Linked DNA regions of Homo sapiens. The protein of the gene in region 2 interacts with the protein of the main gene of each other region in a pairwise test. Each region holds a gene or a part of one and is shown on either strand. Other genes may lie near its edges.

What was found. The genes of interacting proteins can lie anywhere in the genome.
Region 1: the proteins of GPR101 (region 2) and TM4SF4 interact in binary tests that used the Homo sapiens proteins (3 or more experiments, as listed by UniProt).

The regions. Positions count from the first base shown.
Region 1 is NC_000003.12:149,484,548-149,488,201, forward strand, and holds part of TM4SF4 (transmembrane 4 L6 family member 4), read left to right. Parts: intron 1-3,071; coding exon 3,072-3,208; intron 3,209-3,654. UniProt on the Homo sapiens protein: Regulates the adhesive and proliferative status of intestinal epithelial cells. Can mediate density-dependent cell proliferation.
Region 2 is NC_000023.11:137,031,892-137,035,645, reverse strand, and holds the start of GPR101 (probable G-protein coupled receptor 101), read left to right. Parts: upstream 1-1,650; 5' UTR 1,651-1,844; intron 1,845-3,754. UniProt on the Homo sapiens protein: Orphan receptor.

The sequences.
Region 1 (3,654 bases), on a different chromosome or scaffold from region 2:
TAATTTTTTTTTTTTTTTTTTGGAGGCGGAGTCTCGTTCTGTTGCCCAGGCTGGAGTGCAGTAGCGTGATCTCAGCTCACTGCCACCTCCGCCTCCCGGGTTCAAGCAATTCTTCTGCCTTGGCCTCCCGAGTAACTGGGAAAATAGGCATGCACCACTGTGCCTGGCTAATTTTTATATATTTTTAATAGAGATGGGGTTTCACCATATTGGCCAGGCTGGTCTGGAACTCCTGACCTCGTGATCCACCAGCCTCGGCCCCGCAAAGTGCTGGGATTACAGTCGTGAGCCACCACGCTAGGCCTAGAATACCCTTTAAACTATAACAAGGCCTAGAATACCTTGTTAACTATAATATCCAGAACTAGGAACTATGGGTTCAACCTTTTTATAATAATTAATAAATATGTGTTAAGAAAAAATTTTTAACACAATTCTGTCATCTAACAATGATTGAGTTGTTTCTGACTGATGTCTTCTCTAGGCAGTACTTGGTTGTTCAAAATAAAGTGTTTGAGGAAATACATTATTACCTGATAGATGAAATAAGGACTCAACTCTAAGGTAATTCCTTCATTTCTGAGGAATAATGTGAGAGTGAATGATTTTCCTTATATTCCAGCATATGTAGTAGATTTCCTTCTCAGAAGTTTACACAAATTCATGTTTCATAAGTACTATATTTTTAGAAGTGCAGCAGGAATGAAACTTAGTTATGTAATCCAGCAATTCTCAAACTTATTCAACCTTACATCCTTTGGAAAAGAGATTGCCTGTTCTAACACGAGAAATTTACCAAAATGTTCACTTACTTCTGACCTAGGTTAAAGTCATGAATGTTCTGGATGCTGAGAGTGGATTTAGATACCCTAAACATAAACAATAAGGGGAAAAATCTAAACAATTAGTAATATGAAACCTTAGTCATTGAAAACATGCAACAAGTCATTATCCAGTGCCTTTGATAAGCTAGGAAGAAGGAAAACTGTAAAACTATGCTAAGTGTGGAAAAATGCCCTATCTTCAAATAACTTATTGTCTGTGACTTCAAGGAACTTGTGCTCTATTTGGAGAAGACAGCCATAAAAAGCTAAGCATTAGTTGGGCATGGTGGTGCATGCCTGTAGTCCTAGCTCCTTAGGAGACTGAGGTGGGAGGATCACTTGAGCCCAGGAAGTTGAGGCTGCAGTGAACCACGATTGCACCACTGCACTCAGCCTGGGTGACAGGGCAAGACCCTGTCTAAAAACAAAAACAAAAACAAAAACAAAAAAACCTATGCATTATTGTATTAGAGGCATTGTGCTGTGATAGAAATTTGTGCAATCTAGAGTACAGGGGTTGGAAGAGATGAAGAATGAAGGGTCAGTTCTACAAGGAGAGTCAGACAAAGCACATGAATAGAGCTTGGTATTAAAACGTTGCATCAATCAGATGAGTTGGCAAAAGAGTTAAATTTTCTATTAAAAAGACTTTTTTTAAAAGTTGCATCCAAAATACATTGATATATGATATGAAAATGAATCCCAGCTAAAGTAGAACTCCATTATTACATAGATTCCAATCACCCAGGCACGATCAGGTCCTCTTCACCTTCAAACCTTACCCCATCCCAGATATGTACTATGATAATATTGTTAATAACATGAAAGGGGAAAGGGAAAATAGCCGACATTTAGCTTAAGCTGCCACGTCTAATTTTCACAACAGATATTTAAGGTGGGCTCTATCATGCCCATTTTAAGATGATAAAACTAAGGCTCTGAGGACACATTCATTATGCAAAGTCATTACACAGAGAAGACTAGCAAAGCTGAGATATGAGCCTGGGTCTGGGTCTGCTGACTTTAAACCCTGTGCTTCGTCATCAAAGCAACAGAGGTGATCGTTTTCTGCCTCTTCTTCCAAAATTTTAAATGTTTTCATTCTACTTTCTAGTTACTGTCTAGAATGGATATTGCAAAAGTTCTTAACATCCTGGGCCTACATTTTTTCATCCGTAAGAGGGAGTTAACCTAGCTGGGTTCCAGGATTGCTTCTGCCTTTTGCAGTCAATAATTCTATTTTGATTTTATAATTGAAAACAAAATATGGTAGTCTAATCTGTTTTTCATTAATCTCCATCATAGAAAAATATTTAAAAGAATGGAATTTTTTGATTGTTTAACTTAAAGAAGAGAAAATGCTCCGAGGGTGGAAGGGGTGAGAGATGTCAAGGCAATCTTCAGATATTTTAAAGACTGATGCCAAATGGAAGACAGGTTAGACTTGATCTTTTTGGCCTCGAGGAACATAATGAGGGCCAATGAGGAGGGGTTCTAAACTTTTACTCTTTCTCATAAGTAGAACCTGCCTGTCACATGAGACATCACAGTGACTGGCCTTAGCAGGATAATTTGACCAGAAAACTTAAGATTACTGCCAGGCCAGGTGCGGTGACTCACATCTGTAATCCCAGCACTTTGGGAGGCCAAGGCAGGCGAATCAACTGAGGTCAATAGTTCAAGACCAGCCTAGCCAACATGGTGAAACCCTGTCTCTACTAAAAATACAAAAAAGTAGCCAGGCATGGTGGCGCACGCCTGTAACCCCAGCTACTCAGGAGGCTGAGGCAGGAGAATCCCCTGAACCTGGGAAGTGAAGGTTGCAGTGAGCTGAGATCACACCATTGCACTCCAGACTGAGCGACAAGGGTGAAACTCCGTCTCAAAAAAAAAGATTACGCCAATCCTAAGGTTCTTTGATTCTATAATAGATTGGCTTTATATATCAGCCCTGGGGAGGAGAGTTTATCTTTAACAAGGTTAAAAGGCCATGGCTCAAAGGTAACAGAACCAACACCTCTGTCATCAATGAAAAGGTGAAAAAGAAATGGAAATGGGAGTGAAGAAGGGAAAAGAAGACACCAAAATTCATTCTAGAAGACCCCACAGGCCCCATCTACTATAAAGACTAGCTCCTACTCCATAACTTCTTGTAGTCACCATGTTCAACAGCAGGTGGATTAGGTTTGTTGAGTGTATCCTCTGGACCACCTGGAGAATGTGACTGTCTCTCTTCCTCTCTTTCAGATGTTCACCTCCACGATATTTGCTGTGGTTGGATTCTTGGGAGCTGGATACTCGTTTATCATCTCAGCCATTTCAATCAACAAGGGTCCTAAATGCCTCATGGCCAATAGTACATGGGGCTACCCCTTCCACGACGGGTAAGGCCACACCCTGCAATGCCCACCTGTCACCACAAGGGGCATGGGCAGATAAATTGCCCAAGGGGAGACTGCACACAATGCCATGTCTTCATCCTTATGCAAGCCTCAGGCTCGGTGCTCCTTTGAGGCAGAGATGGAGTTGTGGAATACAGCAAAGTTGCATAGGCTCTCACCTCTAATTGCTCCTTTGACAGACCCCAGGAGAAATAACTAAAAGAGGACGGATGCCTCCTTTGGCCTGAGGGAAGGAAGAGATTTGTTGTGTCATCACTTGCACCCAAATATTTATTAGCAGCAACACAAGGCAACTAATAATATTAATAAACAGAGTAATAGTTTTCATTACAAATCTCATAATAGAAAACAAGAATAATTAACCACTAACTGGGCCCAAGGGCTTTCATTAATACCCCAAATTGCCTATAATTAAACAATCATTTAAG
Region 2 (3,754 bases):
TGGGGAGATAAAATCAGGCATAGCAGAAAAAGGACAAATGATCTAAGAGCAAATGCAGGACTCCAGATCCAAAGAGCATTCTTGAGGCCCGATTATACACCTGTCTCATCTCCCTGTCTCAGAGGCAGGTGACGAGAAGGGGAGGAGGTATCTCCATCCAGCCCATCAACCAACTCCAAACCCTGTGCTCATTCTAGACCCTCCCCAACACCTCCTTGCCCTTATTCCCTGTCAATTTGCCTCTCTGTAGGTCTCTGCTTGCCCCGCTCTGTTGGACCTGTCAAGACCCTCTTTGTCTCCTGCCACAGCCTCCCTTCAGCTTTCTCCATCCAACACCAGCCCTGATTTTAGAATATCGCCCTACCTAAAACCCACCAATGAACAAGAATGGCAAATTATTTACCCTTGTGAAGGCTGGGTAATAGGAACATGGAGGATTATTTTATTATTCTCATTACGTTTGTGTATGCTTGAAGTCTTTCATAATAAAACGACTCTCCGACGACCTCCAGGGATCTCAGGGTAAAGTCCGAAGTCTGCAGACTGGCATTCAAGACCCCTCAGGATTTGTCTCTACCCAGTTTAACCAGCTAACCTCCTGGCACTCACCATGCTGCAGCCTGTTTTCCCAGCCTTTGGAACTCAAGTCTCTCTTGCAGCCCTAGTTTTACCCCATGCATCTTCTTTTTACAGAACACATTTCCCCTTGTGCCCTGCCTAGAAAACACCTCCTAATCCCTTGGAAATCTAATGCAAATGATCCCTGGTCTGGGTCACCTTCCCTACCTTCTGGGGGCAGGGAAGAGGGGGCCTCCTCAGTCCTGATATACAACAAATACCCAGTATGTGTTTAGGAGAGACCAGAATGTCTTGGCTAATAGAACGTGTGCAATATTTACTTGAACTTAGGCAAGTAGGGTAATCTTTCTTGGCTTCTGCTTCTGTCTCTATAAAATGAAGATAATAGCGGTACTTATCTCACAAGGCTGGGGTAAAGATTCAGCGGTATTCTCTGTGTAAACAGTTTAACACAGTACCTGGCAGAGAGAGGGGGAGAAAGAGGGAGAGAGGGAGAGATGCTGACTGACTTACAGACAGACATACTTCAATCAAAGAATATAGTGGGTAATTATGTGGCTTGTCTTAAATGAAATGCTTCCAAATCCCACAGGGAAAGCACTGCCGCTTAGCTCTTCCTGGGAGCTAGAGAAATTCGTGGAAAATCGTTGACATTAAAGTCACGATTCCTTTCTCGGGCTCAGGGGCTATTCATACTTTGGAGGGTTTTCAGAAGTCGAGGGGAGTCCCGGGCCCTCCTATTTGGAAGAATCGGAAGGATAGTGCAGGGTCTGTGCCTGGGAGCTGGCCCGAAATCAGGGGGCTAGGAAGGCACGGGGTTTGCACGAAAATCAGCCCCGGTGACAATCCCCAGTCTGTGAGCTCTCGGTGGACTCGGGGCCCCAGGGGTGGGAACCCGGAGTGAGAAAATCTGAGTGGGGTCTGGTGCACGGCCCCCCACCTGCCAGCCCCGCTCCCTGGGCTGCGGCGGCCTCGTGCGTCACGGGCGCAGGCGGGGGCCGAGGGGAGGGCGGCACCGCAAGGTGAGGGCACCGCGCTGCCTTAAGACGCCGCGCGCCCCCGCTGCCTCTCAGAGCTTGCAGCGCGGCGCGCTGGCCGGACGTGCGGGCACAGACGCTGTGCCCCGCTCCTGCCGCGCCCGCAGCGCCCGCTGCCCCGTGCCAGCTCGCAGCCGCCCGAGCCCCGAGAGGCGGCCGGGACGAGCGCGAGGAGCCCCGAAGGACCTGCACGCGGCGCCCGCGACGCCACGTCTGCAGCAGCAACAGGTAAGCAGCCCGGCCCTACTCCGGGCTCCGTGGCCCCCAGCACCCGGCAGGGCCCCGAGCCTGGGAGCCCACGACGCCCCCTCTGAAGCGTCCCGACGGCTGCTGAGCTACCAGGCGCGGTGGCCCGCGGTGCGGCCCCTTCTCGCCTTTCCCTAGCCATCCTCCCGCCCTCGCGTTTTCTCTCTCACTTTTTCTCGTGCGTTCTTTTCCCCCTTCCTCTCCATTCTCTCGTTTTTTCCTCATCCTTTCCCTCTTCCTCTGCTTGTTCTCTTTTCTTATTATTTTTTGCTTTTTCTGTCTGCGTCTCTCCCAGTCTGTCTTGCTCTCTCATTCTCTCTCACTCTCACGCTCCCATTTCTTCTTTTTTCTTTCTTTCTCCCTCTCTGTTGCTCACATTCTCTCTGTCTCTCTGTATGTATCTCATTCTTTCGCTGTCTCTCATTTCCTTTTTGTCTCTCTGCCTCTCAGTCTCTCTCGCCCTGCCTTTCTGACTCTCTCCACCACCCTGCACCCCTGCCTCTTTTGCCTTTCTCCCCAGCTCCTTTCCCACTCCCCTCGGCTGTCACCGACACCAAGCAGATCCGGAGAAAGCAAAGAGGATGCCAAATTGGGAATGGGGATGGGGCTGTGGAGGGTGAGGGTAGGGGAGCTCAATAGGCATCCTCTCTGCATTTTCCAGTCTCCATTGCACTGCTGATAAACTAAGGGTTTTTTAACCAAAGCCCGCGGTGGCCGGGGCGGCAGGTGGTTTCCACGGCAAAATAAAGTCCACAGGGAGACAGAGATCCAAAGAGACAGAGATCCAGCCAGAGAAAAACCAAGGTGAGGGGCCATGGGAAAAAGATGTAGAGAAATAGAGATGCGCACACACTCAAAGATACAAAGCAAGTGTTTAGCCAGAGTCCTGGGGTGACAGGAAAGTGAAGGACAGAGAAACCAACGAGAGAGTGCACACACTAAAGAGATAGCTTGAGAGACAGGTGAGACAAGCAGTAGAGTGTTAGAGATCAATGGAGAGAGAGGCAGAGTAATGCAGAGAGAACTTAGGCAGGGAGAGACAGAAACCACACGGAGAGACACAGAGACAAGAGGGTCCGAGAAAGACAGAGCAAGCGCACACGTGCCAGTGAGAGACAGAAGGAGACACCCAGAGAACCCGAGGGAGACGCAGAAACAAGAGAGTTGGAGAGACACGGAGACGGGCAGAGACACAGCGAACGACATTGAACAGGTGCGCTAGGGACCCACAAAGATGAACTGCTGGGGAAATAGACTGAGAGAGAAATGGAGAGACAAGAGAGCACTAGGGAAAGACGGAGACACACATGAACTAGCGAGCGACACAGTGACAGGCAGAGACACAGAGAGACAGAATGGATCAGAAAGAGACTGAGGGAGAGACGGGCAAGACTGTGAGAAAGATAGGGAGCGAGAGCGCAAGCCCTGCAGAGAAAGTGCGCTAGCGAAAGAGACACACACAGAGAGACTGAGTGACAAACAGAGTGGAAGAGATAAATGAGAGTAACAGGAAAGAGACAGCGTGCACGTGCTATCGAGAGACGGAGAAACAGAGACAGACATAAGTGAGAGACAAGGATGAGAAAGAATCAGGAAACGGTGAGACACATACAGACACACAACCCGAGAGATAAAGAAAAAAAGTGCGCTAGCGAGAGACACTGGAGAAGAGACAGAAACTGACGGTCGTAAACAGACAGAAACAGAGAGCGCACGCGCATGCGCTAGCGCTAGCGACCAAAACTCCCCGGAGCCAGAGACAGTGTGAGAGACAAGCAGAGAAAGCGCACGCACGCACGCGCCAGCAGGAGAAACAGATGAGAGGAAATCAGAGCCCTGGAGAGAGACAGGCAGACAGATCTGGAGAGTCCGGAAAGGAGCCATAGAAGCTG